3 linked regions of the Homo sapiens genome follow. The protein of the gene in region 3 purifies or fractionates together with the protein of the main gene of each other region. This does not show direct contact. Each region holds a gene or a part of one and is shown on either strand. Other genes may lie near its edges.

Region 1 (7,828 bases), on a different chromosome or scaffold from region 3:
TGGGGAATCCCGGCAGGGTCAAGCAGTAGTGGAGGTTGCAGCGGCGACGGCAGGTGGGGAGGGAGGAGGAGGGAGAGGGAGGAGGGTGAGGGGGCTGGGGTGGAGGAAGAGCTGTAGTTACTGGTATCCCAGCGCCGAGGCTGAAGCTAGTCTCTGTCCATACAGCGCGTATGGCGAATAGTAGGGTCCGGCTGTGGGGAGGGACGGCACGGCCAGGCCCCCCGCTGTGGATAAGTGGCTCTTGCCATAGGGGTGGTACCGGCTTAGGCCCAAAGTGTGTGGATTCCGCAAGGACAGCGACCCGGGGCTGCCGGGGGCGGCGGGCGGGGGGAGGTGCAGATGGCAGGAGGCGGCGGCGGCGGCGGCGGCGGCGGCGCTGCCCAGGCCCGAGGCCCCGGGGTAGGCGGCCAGAAGTTTCTCGGCTCCCGGCAGGGCCGTGTGGGTCCGTAGGTGGCTGAGCAGCTCCTCCGAGGTGGCGAAGCGCTTGTCGCACGGCCCACTGGCTGCCACCCAGTTGCAGCTGTGCGGCAGCGGTTCGTTCTGCAGCATGAAGCCGTAGGTGTAGAGCGGGTGGCCGGGGAGCGCGGCCTGGGCGGCGCTGGACGAGAGCGCGGCGGGCTGCAGCGGGTGCCCGGGGTACACCAGCGGGTAGCCCCCCGCCTTCAGGCTGGGCCCGGCAGGGTCGTGCGCGCTGCAGGTGGAGCAGCTGGAGCCGCCGAGGTGCGAGGCGCCGTGGTAACCTCCCAAGCAATAGGGGTCGCGGCATAATCCCTGCAGGAAGGAGGGCGGGGAGGCCCCGGTGAGCGGGCTGGAGCTGGGGGGCTTGCCCGGCGGCAGGCCCAGGCCCCCAGACAGCTGGCCTCCCACGAGGCCGGACTTGCTAGGATCCAGGCCAGGCACGAACTGAGACGGGTAGCCGGCGTAGGCGCCCACGATGGAGCCGTGGTAGCCAATGCTGGAGGGCGGCAGCGGGAACACCGAGTGGCCCGGCTTGTAGGGAGACACCGGCGCCACGTGGCCGGCCCCCACCAGCGCCGAGGGCGGCTCGGACTTGCGCCCGGAGGCCCCGGACTCGGCGCCACCGTGCGCCCCGGGCTCCCCACCGCCGCCGCGGCTCACGGCTGCCGGCTCCGGGCTGGGCTTGGGCTCCTGGTCTTTCTTGTCCAGCTCCCCGCCGCCAACCCCGCCGCCGTTCTTGCAGTCAGAGTGGTGCGGGGAGCCGCCGCGGGAGCCGCCGGGCGACGACGAGGACGAGGATGCGGAGACCGGCGCTCCATGCGGGGGAAAGGGCGGGCAGGCGGCGCTGGGGACCCTGAAGCCCGCCTTGTCTCCCGGGGACGAGGAGGACGAGGAGGAGGTGGAAGACACCGAGGAGGAGCCGCTGTCTTTGCGGGAGTCGCCGCCGCCGGAGCCCTTGGAGTAGGGCTTGAAGCTGGACTTGTCCTCGGCCGGTGAGTCCCCCAGCTGCTTCAGGGCCGCGGCTGCGGAGGCGGCGCCCGGGGCTGAGCGGCCGGGGTCCTTCTCCGCTCCCAGCCCGTTGGCCGCCGCCGCCACCGAGTTGAGTTTGGAGGAGGGCGGCGGGTCCGGCTTGCCGATCTGCGAGCAGGTCTGAGCCAGCAGCGCCAAGGGGCTCTTCTTGGCGTCCAGCTGTGGGAGACAGAAGCAGGGGGAGGGAGAAGGAGTGAGACTCAGAGGCCTGCGGGGCGAGCGGGGGCGCCCGGGGAGCTGGGCGGCGGCGCCACGGGGCGGGGCGGGCCTGGGGAGAGGGTCTGCGAGCGAGGGCCGGGCCGGGCGCGGCAGCTGGCGGAACTGCGCCCACACTGCCGCTGGGTCCCGGGGTGCGCCGCAGGCCCTGCGGAAGGAGTTCACCCAGGACCCCTGCGGGAGAAGGTGACGTCTCTGGAGTCGGGGCTGTGACTCGCCACTTCCCTCTAATGTCCCCCTCCTCCAGGCCCAGGAAAAAACTTATTCCTTTAGTTTGGGGGAACTTCGCTTGGGACGGGTTTCTGGCGATGGCGCCGCGGGGTAGGAGAGGGGAGCGCGGATTCTAAAGGAGGGGCTGCAGTTGGCGCTCTCTCCGTAGCCCCTCCCTCCCGGGGAGGGCACCCAGGGAAGAGGCAGGAAGAAAGATCCGGGATCGGGAGCGCCAGGGCGCCGTGCGCCCTCACCGGATGGGACAGAGGCGAAGTGGGACCCGGGCAGCCAGGGCTTCAAAGAAAACAGCCCGGCGTGGGGGGCGGGGAAGACCCAGCAGAGACCAACTCCTGGCTGGAAACTGGGGATCAGAGGAAAAGTAAAGGACCCAGAGGGGACTCCAGGAGCAAATCCAATCCGAGAGAAAACACGGAGCTCCGAAGGGCGAGCGTGGAAGGAGACCCTTCCACGGGGAAGCCTGGGGAAGCCCTGGTGGGCTCTGATCCCTCGGTTTTCTTCCCCTCCTCACTCAGCCCGCCAGCGTGACCAGACTTGGGTGTCGCACCGAGCCCCGGGGCGCTGGGAGCTGGGTCAGGGTCCCGGTCGCGGTGGGAGGAATGGGGCCGGCGCCCGGGGGCAGCGGCCGGGGACTGACCTCAATGGGGCTGACGGGAGTGGAGGACAGCGGCTGCAGGTACTCCGGGTGCAGGAGGTGACCGGTGTGAGCGCTCAGCATCTTCAGGACCCTGATCGGGAGCCGGTTCGCCTGGCGCAGGGGGTCCGCCGGTGGCAAGAGGGACACCGCTGCCGGCACCGCCGGCCTCTTCCCGCCGCCGCCGCTGCCGCTGCCGCTGCTTTCGGGTGTCCTTGGGTTAGATCCAGCGGGCGAATCGCTCATTTGGAGGAGGCAGCGCCGCTGGGGGGGCGGGGAGGGCGGGGGAGCACCGGGGAGGCGAGCTCCCGGGGCGGGTGGGCTCGCTCCGCAGCGTCGATCGCGGTGCAGCGGGAGCTGCGCCTCCTCGCCGCCTCCCCTCCTCCACCGACGCCTCCGCCGCCGCCGCCACCGCCGCTGGCCCCGGCTAGCAACACAAAAACCTTCGCCTTCCTCGAGCCGCACGTCAAATAGCCGCGATCGGCAGCCACACTTCAAAGGGATCGCCGCGCCCGCCCAATCGCAGCTCTCGCCGGGACCCCGGGGCGGGGAGAGCGGCGGGCTGAGGCCGGCTCCATCGGTGGGCGGGGAGAGCCTTAAAGGGGCCGCGCCGCGCGCCGCCGCTGCCTCGGTCTCGGCCGCTCCCGGGATTCCTCCCCTCCCCCCGACTGGGCCTTCCTCGCCCTGGGGTCCCCCGCCTGGGACGGGACTTCTCCGGGACCCTGAGCTCTGCGCCCCGTCCTCCTTTCCGGCCGCTCTCTCTCCTCTCTCCCTTCTCACCACTGGGTGGGTGGGGGGTGATGCTGGCGGGGGCTGTAACCCCGCCCGCCGTGTGTGTCCGAGGTGGGGTGGGGTGGGGTGGGGTGGGGTGGGAGGGATCGCACGGCGCGGGCTCTGGGACGCTGGAGTTCAAGCCTCTCCCAGAGGCCGCCTGGGGGCAGGCCTCGCCTCGGGAGCCCGGGTCCTTCTCCAGAGCTGCTCCGGCTCTCCTCGGCCCCGCTCTCCTTCCCCTACTTGGCCTCCCCTTGGTGTGTTCACTTGGAAGCGCCCGAGCCTCGGAGGCACCCACTGTTCTCGGGACGCGGCGTAGGCAGCTCCAACTACTTTGAGCCCGTCTTGTCTGAAGCCTGCAAGTTTGTCTCCCTTCTGGAGTGACATGGTCGGCGACCAAGCGCGGGACCCCAGGCTGTGCGCGCTGTGCCTGCGCCCTGCGTTAGAGGCTCGGTGTCTGGTGTGTTACAGGCTTCTTACCGTGTCCTGCTGAGGGGCGTGAAGTTCCTCACTGTACCGCGCCCAGCTGCTACGAGGAGAGACCGAGATCACGGGCGAGGCGGGTGTCCCTGGAGGGGGATCTCTCTCTAAGCGCTGCTCGGCAACACAACCCCTCCGCCCCCCCATCCTTCTCACTCCGGGGGAAAAAGCACTTGCTTTCCCCAGGCAAATTTCGGGATAAAAACTTTTAATTAAAAATAACAATACCCTTCCCGACTCCCTGCGCCTTTCTGATACAGTGTGCATTGCTAGCTTCGCCCTGGGCAGAGATTTTACGTAGTCATAGTCCTGACATCCAAGTTCCGGATCCGCCGCTTTTCCGGAGGCGAAGTTGGTCCTTTGGGTGCCGAACTCTGGGGAGCCCACTTCTCCGTGCGCTCGGCGGCCAGTGGAGGCGCGCTGGTGTCACTGCCTGGCTCCCAGCACCACTTTTCCAGTCCCGATCCATCACTCCGGTTGTCAGGGCTGTCACTCGGGGCGTATTGCTCTAGGATGGCAGGTTCCCGACTCTGCCGCGCTGACCGACGCCTTGAGATGACCTGAGAACCCAAGATGGGGAGAGGTGATTTCAAAGGAGCTCTTCAAACAGAAAGAAATAGCTATCACGAATCTGTATCTTGCCCAGTAGTAGAAGACAGCAGACCCCACTTCCAGGCAGTATCAGTCATACCCAAAACTAAGTGCACTCCCTGGATCCATACTGTATTTTGGGCAGCACTTATAGAATGCTTAGAAATTACACAAGCTGTAATTACATGTTCCCCAATTTTAATCTTGGTAAAATCATGTTACGCCGAATGGAAAGGGGTACCCTGACTGTGAGATGGATCCCACATTGCAGCAAGAGGGGTGCGGGAATGAAAAGGGAGGGAGTGATCTCATTTATTTCATCGTGGCAGGCTTCTCATGCCGACTTCTGTGCGGGCAGCCATTGCCATCACTGCAAACACCACCTGTAAAAGTCCACTGCAGGGCTGTGTCCACCCACAAGCCATTTTGCCTTCGGGAGACTGCTGTGTAGAGCGGGAAGGGCAGAAGGAAGCCAGGGTGCAGAGAGGCTGGCCTTTGCAGGAACGCAGAGGAGGAGGAGCTGGGCAGAGGGGAGACCTAGGAGGCTATGAAAGATGAAAGTCTCCCTGATTATTGTAACCAGCCCAGCTGTGAGAGGGAGCCAAGGGATCCTTCTAGGGCCTGAGCAGATGTGTGTTAGAAATGATTAATGGGAAATAAGTCAGGAGGAAAAGGGGAGGGGAGAGGGAAGAGGTATTTAGGAATTTGGAAAACAGAGCAGGAGGCAGCTGAAAGGAGAGAGGGGAGAAGAGAGAGGACAATAGAATATTCACTCTCTGTTTGGAGAGGAAAAGAGAAGGAAAAAGGTAGTGAATGAAGGAAAGGAAGGGAGAGAAGAGGAGGTAAGGACAGACTGGCAGGATGTGATGGGGGATTTGCCTAGGTAATACTATACTGTCCTGTTAAAAACACCTCACTCCCTGAGCTCCCAGTGGTAATTACTGACGGGCACACAGATTGGCCTGCTCCCACCTCCTGGGAAGTGGTAGGACACACCTCTGAAAGCATGCAAGGCGGGAGGGACACACTTTGAGCTGCTGGTCAGGGCAGCAGGGTTTCTTTGGCTGGATCCATCCAAACGTCTTAGGAGGGAAAATGAAAAACCATGCATAGCCAGGCCAGAGGCCTAATTAAAACACTGCTAGATGATTATTACAATTGGGATTCACCATTCACTTAGCTAAAATGCTAACCTATACAGAGCACTAAATGGGGCCCTCGGGGCCTGAAGGCAAGTGTAGTTTTCAGAGGAATGGCTTGTCACCTGGGAGGGAATGTGGCTCTGTATTCAGATGGGCTGTGTTTATGGAGGGCGATGTGGTTGGAAGGCCCGAGTAAGACATCCCTGTTCAGGACATATGACACAGGTTCTCCCTCTGCAAAAAAGTGGCAGATGCGTGGCTCAGGGGCCTTCCACTGTCCAGGTCCTCCTCAGATGGCCCTGGGAATGAGCGGCCACCATTAAAATGGGACAGGGGAGAGGGCTGCCTGAGAGTGCCCCCATGACACTGTGGTGAAGAATGACAGTTCGGTATGTCAGGCGCTTAATAAACATCAGGTGTTGCTATCATTCTCAGTTCAAGCTGAAGAGAGTCAGGCCCAGAACCAGGCTGCTGTGGGGACCCCGGGCAAGTGAACCTCCCTAAGCTTTGGTTTCCTCCAGGGTAAAATGGAAGCGTGGCCACTTCAGAGTTGGGAGACCAGAAGCAGACAATGCATGTCACCTGTTTCATGCTTGGCACAAAGAAAGTTGAAGGTAAATGATGGCTGTAACCGATTGCATCATTTGTGTCTGAGGAGCAATTGCTCAGGGGAGCAGCCACATCAGCACCAGATTTAGCCCTGGGAACCCAAGCAGAAGAGCCCAGGTTGTCTCTGAATTCTACAGAAATGAAAGTAACCCTTCCCCAGCCTCCAGTTCAATGTGTCTTTTTTTTTTTTTGAGACGGAGTCTTGCTGTCTTGCCCAGGCTGGAGTGCAGTGGCATGATCTCGGCTCACTGCAACCTCTGCCTCTCGGGTTCAAGCGATTCTCCTGCCTCAGCCTCCCGAGTAGCTGGGATTACAGGCGTGTGCTATGATGCCTAGCTAATTTTTGTATTTTTAGTAGAGATGGGGTTTCTCCATGTTGGCCAGGCTGGTCTTGAACTCCTGACCTCAAGTGATCTGCCGGCCTCAGCCTCCGAAAGTGCTGGAATTACAGGCATGAGCCACCGTGCCCAGCCCGCAATGTGTCTTAAAAAAAAAAAAAAATAGCCCATCCCTCCCTAGAAGCCATCAAGAAAATCCTTTAAGAAACTGTGAATATGTATAGATTATTTTTTCACTACTTCAATTTACATAAAATTCACCACCCAGGAAAAAATGCTCGAGTCAGGTTAAGACCTAGAGGGGGTAGATTTGTTGTGTGGGGTTAATGTGTAGTTTTCAGTCCTTGCCGAGGCAGAATTGCCTGAATGATCGCCTCTCTCTCCTCTCTCTGCATAACACTCAAACCCTAATGGCAACAACATGAAATAATATCTCACTGGGTAACTATTTACATTTTTTTTTTTTTTACAAGCTGTAAGAACTCTGAAAAGTCTGCCTCATAGAGAACTTGGTTTTCCTCCCTGGCGCTTAATATCTTTCAGCGGCTGGCAATTACTGCTTTGGCCGGGAGCCCTGATTTAGCACACTGCACTCAGGGCACTTGAAGGCGCTTCCTCTGTCTGCCCCATCCCCCGGCTTCAGACACAGCCTGGGGCACGAGAGGGGCACCAGGGAACAGTGGGAGCAAGCAGGCTAAGACCAGGACAGCCAGCCCTGCAGGAAGCCCGCCCCACCGATGACTCAAGAGGCTCCCTCTTCTACATTCTCACAGTTGGTATTATGTTCTATTATTACACCTATCACATGGCATCTGCCACTATTTGCTTCCTTGTCTGATCTCCCACTGGACTGTGAATGCTTCTTGTTTTCCTCATCCTCTTTGTGTACTTATTGCCTAACAGAGCGGTTCACCATCACCACAGTAGCCAACGTTGAGTGCCAAACGCTGTTCTAAGCACTTTGCGTGCATTCTCTCATTTAATCCTTGCAGAAACCTTAGGAGATGGGTCCTATGGTTACTTCCATTTCACAGGCACAGAAAGGTTAAGTAACTTGCCCAAGGCCCAAGCTGGTAGGAGGTGAGCCTGGAGTGTCAAATCCAGGTCCAGGCAGTCTCAGTGCAGTTAGTACCCAGTGAATGTTTCTGATGAACGAAGAATTTTACAAAAATAGGGCTATTTATTTATATCACACCTCACTGTATTCCCAAAAGGTTTAACACGGATGATTGTATTTTTCAAAATGTTGATTGTATAAACATGTTAAAGTACCTTTTCCCAAATGCATTGTTTTTTTGAGACAGAGTCTTGCTCTGTTGCCCAGGCTGGAG
Region 2 (7,030 bases), on a different chromosome or scaffold from region 3:
CTCTCTGTTGCCCAGGCTGGAGTGCAGTGGCACGATCTTGGCTCACTGCAACCTCCGCCTCCTGGGTTCAAGCAATTCTCCTGCATCAGCCTCCAGTCTTCAGCCTGTAGCTGGAGTTACAAACGTGTACCACCACACCTGGCTAATTTTTGTATTTCTAGTAGAGACAGGGTTTCACCATGTTGGCCAGGCTGGTCTCAAAACTCCTAACCTCAAGTGATCCTCCTGCCTTGGCCTCCCAAAGGGCTAGGATTACAGGCGTGAACCACCACGCCTAGCCAGTTGATTTATTTTTGTTTGTGTGCATGCGTGAAGTAGTGTGAGAAACAGTCACATGGTCCCAAATTGTTCATTATATGAAAAGGTACATTTCCTTTTCATTCATTCATTCATTCATTCATTCATTCATTCATTTTTTCCAAGACAGAGTCTTGCTCTGTCGCCCAGGCCAGAGTGCAGTGGTGTAATCTCGGCTCCCTGCAACCTCCGTGTCCTGGGTTCAAGGGATTCTTCTGCCACAACCTCCCAAGTAGCTGGGATTACAGGCCCGCACCGCCACGCCCGGCTAATTTTTGTATTTTTAGTAGAGACAGGGTTTCAGGCTGGTCTCGAACTCCTGACCTTGTTATCCGCCTGCCTCAGCCTCCCAAAGTGCTGGGATTGCAGGTGTGAGCCACTGTGTCCGGCCGAAAAGGTGTATTTTCTTTTAACCTTATTCCCACTCATGCTCTGTAGGTAACCAATTTCATTAGTCTCTTGTTTTTCCTTTCTGTATTTCTTTTTGTACAAAATGAGCAGAAATATGTACATGTATATTTTCCTTATATATTTCTTACACATAACAGTATACTAGAGATACTCCTTTGCATTTTGCTTTTTTTACTTAATAATGTGTCCTGGATTTATAAATTACCTTATATCTGTTCATAGATATCTTTTTCATGCTGTGTGTGTGTGTGTGTGTGTGTGTGTGTGTGTGTGTGTTTTACAGTTGCATAGTACTCTGCCATATAGATGTACCATATTGTCTATTTTTGGGCATTTGGGTGGCTTCCAATATTTTGCAATTAACAGACAGTGCTGTAATGAATAACCTTATGAGTGAGATTTTGCATTGTTGGAGGTATAGCCTAAGGAACAGTAAATCCTCAGAAATGAGATTGCTAGGTCTAAAGGTAGTTGTCTATGTAGTTTTGTTAGTGACTGCATTTCTACCAGCAGTATATGCATGCTTTCTTCTCCACACCCTCACAAACTGAGTGTCTTATACTTTCTCAGTTTTGCTAATTTATAGATGAGAAGTGGTATCTCATTTTAGTTTTAATTTGTTTGTCTCTCATGAAACTATGGTCTTTTAAAAATTAAAGGTTTTTTTTTTCCCCTTAGACGAAACTGCAAAGGAAATCCGAATTGCTTGGTTGGTATTGGTGAGCATATTTGGTTAGGAGAAATAGATGAAAATAGTTTTCATAACATCGATGATCCCAACTGTGAGAGGAGAAAAAAGGTAAACCATCATTTTTTAAGCGATTGCTATATGCTGTTTTTTGTTTTTGTTTTTGCTTTTGTTTTGGGCCTGTGATCAGAAAACTCTACTGATTTCAGGTAACCTGTGCAGCTTTAAGATAAGCAGTAGAACTTAAGACTCTAAGCCACTTGAATTGGAACACTTCTTAATGATATGCTTTAAAACAGGCAGCTGCGTAATTCAGTAAGCCTTTAAATAATAGTTTTAGTTTGAATGCTGATTCTATGTTTGCTTTAACATTGCATGTTTTATTTTGAAATCTTAACGCCTCTTTAAAGGAGATGGTAATTCAAGGGAACAAACTCATGATGATAGCACTTTGCTTTCTAGGGCTTGTATTTTATATATAATTTTGCTTTTTAAAAATATACATTAAATTTTCTAGACATAAATCTTAGCATTCACGAAATATCCAAGTTTGTTATATATAGATATTTTAATAAAATAATAATTCTTTGTAAGGTCAGGAATTCCCAACCTTATCTTTGGAAAAAGTTGCAGCCAGTTCCCTCTACCACCGCCAATCTTTAAAATCTCTAGAATATAAAGGAAGTTTTCTGCATAAGTTTTACTTTGTCATTCTGCTGAATGCTGGCAGTTTAGAAATACAGAAAACATAAAACCTATATACGCTTGTTCAAAACCGATCTTTTCTAGAATCCACTGTTCTAATTTTAGATTTAAGTGGCTGGAGAAGACGATATGCTAGAGATGAGCAGTGATGCCGTCCGAAGTCTTTTTCACTCCTGTGGTCAACCCAAAATGGGGCTTTCATGAAAATTATGCCCCACCTCCAGCCAAGAGAAACTTAAGGTGGCTATACCATGTTGGTTGTGACGGTCTTACACATTTTTAATCTGAAAATTTAAGAATAATGCTTAGAAATTGGTTGTTTAAAGGAAAATGGGTTTTATAATTATGAATTTTGTATTTTTGTAGAACTCATTTGTGGGCCTGACTAACCTTGGAGCCACTTGTTATGTCAACACATTTCTTCAAGTGTGGTTTCTCAACTTGGAGCTTCGGCAGGCACTCTACTTATGTCCAAGCACTTGTAGTGACTACATGCTGGGAGACGGCATCCAAGAAGAAAAAGGTGGGTGGAAAGGGGTGGGGGAGAGCTCTCTTCCTGAACATTTTTTTAAACTTTTTTTTTTTTTTTTTTTTGAGTCTTCCTCTGTTTCCCAAGCCAGAGTGAAGTGGCGCCATCTCGGTTCACTGCAACGTCTGCCTCCTGGGCTGAAGCGATTCTCCTGCCTCAGCCTCTTGAGAAGCTGGGATTACAGGCGCCCGCCACCACGCCTGGCTAGTTTTTGTATTTTTAGTAGAGACAGCGTTTCACTATGTTGGCCAGGCTAGTCTCGAACTCCTGACCTCAAGTGATGTGGCTGCCTCGGCCTTCCAAAGTGCTGCGACTACAGGTGTGAGCCACTGTGTCTAGCCTAAACTTATTTTATTATTATTATTATTATTTTTTTAAGACAGTTTCACACTTGTTGCCCACGCTCTAGTGCAATGGCACAATCTCGGTTCACCACAACCTCCGCCTCTCAGGTTCAAGCAATTCTCCTGCCTCAGCCTCCCGAGTAGCTGGGATTACAGGCGTGCACCACCACGCCCGGCTAATTTTGTATTTTTAGTAGAGACGGGGTTTCTCCATGTTGGTCAGGCTGGTCTTGAACTCCCGACCTCAGGTGATCCACCCGCCTCGGCTTCCCAGAGTGCTGGGATTACAGGTGTGAGCCACTGTGCCTGGCCTAAACTTATTTTTTTTATAGAGACAGTGTCTTGCTCTGTTGCCCAGGCTGGTCTTGAACTTCTGGCCTTAAGCAGTCCTCCTGTCTCGGTCTCCAAAAGTGCTGGATTACAGGCATGAACCATGGTGCCAGGCCTTGAATAGCTTTTACCAGCCTGCAAAACCTTTGCACCCCAAGGAGTAATATTTTATCTTTATTTTACAGATGGTATATTGACTTGCTGAAAGCCACAATTGGTAGTAAGGATACAAATATTCAGAGTCTGATTAGAAGACAGAAGCTACACAATAATTTGAACAGAAAAGGTTTTTTTTTATTGTTTGTTTGTTTTTTGAGACAAGATCTCACTTTTTCGCCCAGGCTGGTGCGAGCACAGCTCACTGTAGCCTCAACCTCCCAGGCTCAAGCAATCCTCCTGCCAGAGCCCCCCCGAGTAGTTGGAACTACAGGCATGCACCACCACCTCTTGCTAATTTTTGTGTTTTTTTTGGAGACAGCATTTTACCATGTTGCCCAGGCTGGTCTCAAACTCCTGGGTTCAATCGATCCACCTTCCTTGGTCTCCCAGAGTGCTGGGATTACAGGCATGAGCCACAGCACCTGGCCTTGAATAGCTTTTACTGGCCTGCAATGCTTTTGCAGGCCAAGGAGTAATATTTTATCTTTATTTTGAAGATGATATATTGACTTGCTGAAAGCCACAGTTGGTAGTAAGGAGATAAATATAGTCCAGTTAGAAGACAGAAGCTACAGAATAATTTGAAAAGGGAAAGTTGAGAATTAATAACAGAATTAATTAGAGAAATGAGGAATTGATTAATAAGAGTTAAAGATTAAAGAGGATTTTAAAGAATACAAGGACAGCAGATACAGGGAACAACCTGTATCCCTGGGGCTGAAAGAGAACATCCAACGGATAGTCTGTCACCCCCATGGCCCAGGCTTGAGATCCAGACCTCTTTGGACACTGCTGGGATGCACTGGGTGGCTGAAAAGGTGCTGAGATGCCTCCCTGGGAATCCCTACTAGAAACTGTCCATGAGAAGGTGCTGGGCCCTGGAACCCCCTACAGAGTCACCTGAGAGAGTGTCCGGGAGGCCATTCACAGGGTGGTCATTCGAGAGGAAATGCCTCACTGGAGGCACTGTACTGTGAAGCTATCAGAAGAGGTGCTGGGTAAGCTGCTGACTACTGTTAGGGGCAGGAACCTGGAGCCCTGGAGGAAGCTGATCTGCAGCAGGCTGGTGACAGAGGCACAACCAAACCCTGCAGTGCCCTTCACTGAGAAGCCTTACCTTCTTGATAACTGGCAAAGGAGAAGTATTTGCAGAGCCCATCTCTCATCACTGAGCAGGCAAAGAAGGGTAGATTTGGAGCTGAGAAGCAATAAGTTAATAACTTAAAGAAGATAAGACTTCTGTCTTCTGGGCTCTCAATATCCATGCTTTCTGCTTCCATTCCCTGCACTAGCTCATTAAAACTTTCAACTCTAAAATTCTACGGTTTTGTATTCTTCACTTAAGTGTGAATTGCTGTGCTTGAGATCCCAAGTCCACATTAACTGGACTTTAAAAAATCATGACTAGACACTGTAGTCATGATTGCTGTTGTTGCTTTAATACAGGTAGGCTCTTGCCTTTGGGGAGTGTATATGGACAGTCCTGGCTGCCTCATGACTTCCACAAAACATGGTTGCTAATTCTATTTCTTTTTTTTTTTCCTCCCAGATGGAGTCTCACTCTGTTGCCCAGGCTGGAGTGCAGTGGCACAATCTTGGCTAACTACAACCTCCGCCTGTCGGGTTCAAGTGATTCTCCTGCCTCAGCCTCCCGAGTAGCTGGGATTACAGGCGTGTACTACCATGCCCCACTAATTTTTGTATTTTTAATAGAGACGGGGTTTCGCCATGTTGGCCAGGCTGGTCTGGAACTCCCGACCTTGTGATCCGCCAGCCATGGCCTCCCAAAGTGCTGGGATTACAGGCGTGAACCACTGCTTCCAGCCTTGAGCCACTGCGCCAGCCCTGTCTTTTAAAGTTTTTTTTTTTTTTTTTTTTTTTTTAAAGAGTCTCGCTCTGTCATCCAGGCTGGAGTGCAGTGGCATGATCTCTGCTCACCACAACCTCCACCTCCTGGGTTCAAGCTATCCTTGAACCCCAGCCTCCCAAGTAGCAGGGATTACAGGTGCTCGCCACCACACCCAGCTACTTTTTGTATTTTTAGTAGAGACAGGGTTTTACCATGTTGGCCAGGCTGGTCTTGAACTCCTGACCTCAGATTATTCGCCCGCCTCTGCCTCCCAAAGTGCGGGGATTACGAGTGTGAGCCACCGTGCCCAGCCTTGTTTTTTGTTTTTGAGAGTCTCACTTTGTTGGCGATCTCACCTCACTGCAGCCTCTTCCTCCCGCGCTCAATAGATGCTCGTGTCTCAGCCTCCCAAGTAGCTGGGATTACATGTGTGCACCACCACACCCGGCTAATATTTGTATTTTTTTTAGTGGAGACGGGGTTTCTCCATATTGGCCAGGCTTGTCTCAAGCTTCTGATCTCAAGTGATCTGCCTGCTTTGGCCTCCCAAAGTGCTGGGGTTACAGGCATGAGCCACCGTGCTCAGCCTATTTCTTTTAAAGTTTTAAAATGATAATAAAGTATTAATCTAGTTTGGATGTAGAGATGTTTATGTTCTCATGTGAAGAGGAAGTACCATTTTTTGGAAAGAAAAGTAGCACCTTAAAAAACCCCAAATCTATATTTTTGTTTTAATAGATTATGAGCCTCAAACAATTTGTGAGCATCTCCAGTACTTGTTTGCCTTGTTGCAAAACAGTAATAGGCGATACATTGATCCATCAGGATTTGTTAAAGCCTTGGGCCTGGACACTGGACAACAGCAGGTAAGAACTGAATTTTTTTTTTTTTTTAAATATTCAGAGGTACCCAAACATCCTAAGCATGTTTATAAAGGGAGATGAAGTAGAATGCTTTTTAAAAATTAAATTTTTTCTATTTTGAATGAAAACCTTTATTTACTGTCCAATAGTTTACACATTATACTTGATTCCATTTATGGAAATTCATATGGGGGCACAAACTGATTGAACATAGCTGTAGCCCCTGTTTGAAAATGCTAAGTTGAAAGTATAGGTAGTTTCTGGAATGTTGAATGTATTACTATTTGTAGTAGAAGTTGAAAAGCAAGATATGATTTTTCTTTTCATTAACCTAAACTTGTAGGATGCTCAAGAATTTTCAAAGCTCTTTATGTCTCTATTGGAAGATACTTTGTCTAAACAAAAGAATCCAGATGTGCGCAATATTGTTCAACAGCAGTTCTGTGGAGAATATGCCTATGTAACTGTGTAAGTCTGTTTCAACTTTTTCATGGTACATTTTATTCTAAGACAGTTGCTCATATGTTAACTATTTTTCAGTGCAGTTCCAGGTTGTAGCTTTAGTGGTTTATCATGGGACCTGAAATATTTATAGTAATACATTTCCATGGGAACATATAAACAAGTGAGTTGGTAATTGCAGTTGCACCCATCCAGGTGTTAGGAACGGTGTCTGGGTGAGCTCTTGCAGTCTGCTCTTGCTTTATGGCTGTGTGGTGTGAGCTAAAGAGTAAGATTGGAACTGGCTAGAATACTAAAAGTAAATGTAAAATGCCTGTTAAAAAAATGTGCATGAGTACAATATACAACATTTGGGTGATGGTTACATTAAAACCTAGACTTCACCACAGTGCG
Region 3 (4,862 bases):
AACAATGGAGATTTAAGTAGCTATCTTAATTTTGCCAACATGGGAACAACTGATAGGAAAAGAAAAAGAAGCTAGTGGTCTTGCTGAGGTGCACTCCATTCATGGCCAAGGGTGATTTCTGGTTATATCAAGTACCCCATTCCTCTCTCACATCTCCTACCTAGAAAGACTACCTTATTAGACACAACGAACCATTACTCAGTTGGCATTATAGAAAATAGCAACAGTCCTTGCCAGAATCTCAACTCTAAAATCTTTTTTTAAGCCCTGTGTGTGTGTGTGCATGTATATATACATATATATATATACACATACATATATACACATATACATATATATGTGTGTATATACACACACACACATATATACATATACACACATTTCCCCATGCTGAATCAGAGATTTACATAAAACATCCTGCTATGCTCAGGGGAAAGATACTTGTAGTGAGTTAAATTATTAGTTTTACAAAAAAGGCAAGGTAGATTAGACACCAAACACCACAGTTGGTTAGAAATATTTATTATCCCCTCCCCCCACATACAGATTACTTCTCAGAAACATGAAGATATTATCCATGTCCTCATCAATTACAGTTTGTAGAAAATAAACTTAACTCATATCCCATCAACAATGTATTTCTATCATTTTTTTAAACAATAGCCATTTCATTTTTCCATGTTAGTTCCAGAATAGCTTCAAGTTTTATCTTTTGGATCGAATCCAGTCAATCTTTGTTTATAGGTAACAGTTTCCTAACAGATCCCCTCCCCCAACCCCTAAAAAAATTCTATATCCTAAGTGATAAACTCTTCTTGTACATTCAGCAAACTTTATATTGGAAAAGAAAAAGAATAATTGAGATAGGTATTTACTTTCGTGCACAGTAATAAATCTAGCTGAGCTGCTACACCTTGCTTTGCAAAGATGTTTACATAAAATAAATCATCTCTTATCAAGTTACAATGGTAATTTCTTGAAATGTAGATATGAAAGCTATACACTTAATCCACTGAAATTTCCTTCTAATTTTTTAATCTGTAATTAAACCATCACCATAAGGACAAGCTTCATCCCAAGATGTTCCCCCTTTTCCCCTCAGCTATTTCTATCAACTTGAATCCTCTCTCAGATCATGTAAAGAGATACATTAAAAGCACAGGAAAAAAAATGTTTTAGCTTGCTGACATAATGCCCTTAAGTTTGCTGACATAATGCCCACATTTTAACTTTAAAATGTAAAATCAAAGTTAAAGCATCACTTAATTCATACAGTACATTATTAATCAACAGTGTCCCACCAACTCAGAAGTTTCCTAAATTGGCTGCTTTCTCTGCATTTAGTAAGTTTATAACCAATGACTCAATCAAAGAATGTGCTTGTAATAGGCTGCTGGTTTAATTTTAGAATCAAAAGTTTTATATTGGGCTACTTTCAAATATAGAAATGCTATGAGTGACATATGAACTATTAATTTTGTTTCCCATTACCTACAGGAAGAATTTATTCAAATAAAATTTTACAAGACAAAATGCAAATCTATATACCTATATAGAGATGTATATATGTATATATTGAACCTAACTAAAGTTTTATAAGCAATACTAACATAGTTCTGGTTACACATTCCTAAAGACTTAATTGTTTTAAAGATACATGTTATAAAGAGGCTTATGCAAAAGGCAAAAATTAAGAATCAACATGATCTTTTGAGGTTTTCATTACTTCAAAAAGCTGTTTCTATCACCCATAGAAGAAAACTATGCATTTGTTTATCTTAGGAAAAAAAATTATAAAAAGATAATGCTATCATGTAAAGATTCACAAAAACTATACTGTATATCCCATAAGAGTTATACCTACTTAAGGTAAATCACAATTATGGTTTATATTGTACTACAGACATCACCATCGCCTTTCCTCTTTAATAATGAGAGGGTTTAACTTTTTTTTAACTTACTTAACTAGTGCCACAGTAAATCAAGTCCCAGTAGCAACAAGTTAAACAAGATTACAAAATAAGGCATTCTGCTCACACGTCATGAAAGTAACAGGCTTAGTACAGTAAAGCGGGCTGTTATCATTTTTGCAATTTTATATAATCCAAACATTATACAGAAGGCAATCTTTACCAAAAAATCCAATTAATTGCTATTTTCCAGGTAAACAGGAAAACATACATAAAATCCTCAACTTTGGCTATTTCTCCTACTACCATAAACAGATGCTGATCTTATCTACTTAATCAAGTCCACTATTAGAAATGTGGATAAAATGTCTTTGACTATACCATTTCTAAGCCTGTAGGTCACACACTAGATGATTTTTCAAATTATAAATTAAATCTAATATGACAAAATCCCTGTAGTGTTATTTAGGAAAAAAGAAGTGGACTCAGAACATACACACGCACGCACACACACACATGCCATCATATTAAACAGTTGCTTTAAACATTAATTAGTTCTTCAGAAAGAATAAAAATTCTTTAACATCAAGCTGCAGCATGTGTATAAGGGGCAGCAATGCAACCTTTCTCAGCACAAGGTAAGAATATGAATCAACTTTTAAACAACTAGTACCCTGAACCAAAGATTTTGCCAAAGATGAACTCTAAAATACATGTTTTTTTTTTTTGTCGTTGAAATTTGGATTCAATTGCCTGTTGCACTTTTACATTAAGTGTTGCTTAAATAAACAAAAATAGAGCATAAATTCAATATTCTACTGTCTAAACATTTTAAAGCAATGGTTATGCCATCATAAACAAGTAAAATGCACCTAATTTGGGTCTTTTGACACCTCTTGTTTTAAGTTTCCTGTATGATAAAGTTCTTCACAGTTTAAAATATTGTGAAGAAATATATTTAACTATATTCACATACATATTATGTACATGTACTATGTCTTTGTTGTACCCATAAACTTTGAATACGTGTGTATCAGTAGGATACCCCACACATATGGCAGGAACCCTGAATAATATGGTTGGTGTGGACTGAAATGATTTCCCAGAAAGGCTTAGAAATAAGAAAAGAATATTATTATGAATAATTGTAATAACAGAAATTTTACCTTATTTACATAGTGCCTATCTCCCAAGAGGTAAATATGCTTTACAGACATTTTTTAGTAACTCTGTGAGGTGGGGCATTGGGGACACCATCAATTCTCATTTTCCGCAAGCAAGTAAACTACCCAGGACCACACACTTTAGCAGTGGTAGAGTAAATACAGACATGGAGATCTCCTAAATCCCGAAGTCTCCAATTACCAGATCAAATAGTCTTGTGGTAGTAATAAGATTTCCATCATTCAACAGAACTCCTACCACAAAGGATTAATTTCTAAGTCCTCATACACTTGTGATTGTGCGTTATATTGATAACCACAGGGAGATCAAAATGGTTTTTGGTTTTGGCAGATGAAAAAGTCTAACATTCAGTGTGATTATACTTCAGTGTAACTTCTCCAGTTTAAGTGCGACACAGCTGATTGGTCTATCAGGGAGATGCAGTCAACGTCTAATCATGGCTGAAGAGTTCTCAATCCGAACAGCTATTGCATGATTACAGAGATAGCCTACAATCTTTTATTGTCTTAAAGGTCTTTTCTATCTCCACATATGGTATACACATATAAATATGCATTTTAGCACAAAATGTACAGTTACCATCAGTTCATGTTTAAATAAACAAAGGCCTTAAGGGTGAACTTTAAAGGCCAAGAGCTCCTCAGAGTGCATGTTGTTTAAAGATCGAAGATCTGGCAACTTTAGAAGCAGTTTTGTAAAAATAGAGGCCTCATTTGGATGGTTTTTCATTATTAAGGTCCTTAGTGCACGAATGAGAGTTTCCTGCAAAGCCTCCACAGAGTTGACGTTTTCTATTCCAGATCGATCTAAGAGAGATCAGGAATAGGGAAATAGGAAAAACAGGATAAATTATTAACATTAAATATAAATAAAATTCTTGCTTATCAGTGTCACTAACGAATAGAAAGCAAGGTTTTATACATCTGAATAAAGGCAAAAGTTGACAAATTTCTCAAAATCTCAGTAACAAATCGTTAGCTAGTTACTATATTATAAAGCATATATATCACATAAAACATTTGATCAATCAAAATTCTTTACTGTTAAGAATTTTTATTCACAAGAACATAGAGGTTCTGACTTTTTAAAATTAGATGTCATCTGATTTCAACTGCTTCTAATTAGCAAAATAAAATAATGTAGTATATAAACATATTTTCAATACATATGGAATACACTCCCATTTGTATGTCACCATGTGTGGTAGGCAGCCCCTAAAATGGCCTCCAATGATCCCTTCATCCTGGTATTCGCACCCTTGCGCAACCTCCTCCTACTAAGTGGACCTAGACTTACTAACTTCTAATGAAAAAAAATATGGCAGAATTGATAGGATGTCCGTTCTGAGATTAGCTTACAAGAAACTGTGGCCTCCATCTTAGGTACGCTCTTGCTCACTTACTCTGAGAAAAGCTGCTGCCATGCTGTGAGCCACCCTGTGGAGAGGCCCACATGGCAAGGAACTAAGAGTGGGCTCTAGCCAACAGTCAGCAAGCAACTGAGGTGCTCAGTCCAACAGCTTGCAAGGAACTCAATCTTGCCGATAACTACATACAACTGAAAGCAGATCCTTCCCTACTCAAGCCTTCATATGAGACCACAGCCCTGTCCACAGCTTAACTATAACCTCCTAAGAAACCCTGAGTCAGAGGCACATATCATATCCTATCTCTCATATCATATCTTAACCCTCAAAAACTGTGAGATTAAATAAATGTTTGCATTTGTAAGCCCCTGAATTTTGGGACAATTTGTTATGCAGTAATA

The links. The genes of interacting proteins can lie anywhere in the genome.
Region 1: the proteins of NR1D2 (region 3) and ZNF703 purify together in Homo sapiens (affinity purification with mass spectrometry; 2 studies listed by BioGRID and IntAct, with this or other methods). This does not show direct contact.
Region 2: the proteins of NR1D2 (region 3) and USP48 purify together in Homo sapiens (affinity purification with mass spectrometry; 3 studies listed by BioGRID and IntAct, with this or other methods). This does not show direct contact.

The regions. Positions count from the first base shown.
Region 1 is NC_000008.11:37,690,964-37,698,791, reverse strand, and holds the start of ZNF703 (zinc finger protein 703), read right to left. Parts: upstream 3,011-7,828; 5' UTR 2,813-3,010; coding exon 2,570-2,812; intron 1,648-2,569; coding exon 118-1,647; 3' UTR 1-117. UniProt on the Homo sapiens protein: Transcriptional corepressor which does not bind directly to DNA and may regulate transcription through recruitment of histone deacetylases to gene promoters. Regulates cell adhesion, migration and proliferation.
Region 2 is NC_000001.11:21,752,140-21,759,169, reverse strand, and holds part of USP48 (ubiquitin carboxyl-terminal hydrolase 48), read left to right. Parts: intron 1-1,386; coding exon 1,387-1,507; intron 1,508-2,465; coding exon of another isoform or gene 2,466-2,467; coding exon 2,468-2,624; intron 2,625-6,050; coding exon 6,051-6,178; intron 6,179-6,518; coding exon 6,519-6,643; intron 6,644-7,030.
Region 3 is NC_000003.12:23,976,262-23,981,123, reverse strand, and holds the end of NR1D2 (nuclear receptor subfamily 1 group D member 2), read right to left. Parts: intron 3,902-4,862; coding exon 3,705-3,901; 3' UTR 507-3,704; downstream 1-506. UniProt on the Homo sapiens protein: Transcriptional repressor which coordinates circadian rhythm and metabolic pathways in a heme-dependent manner.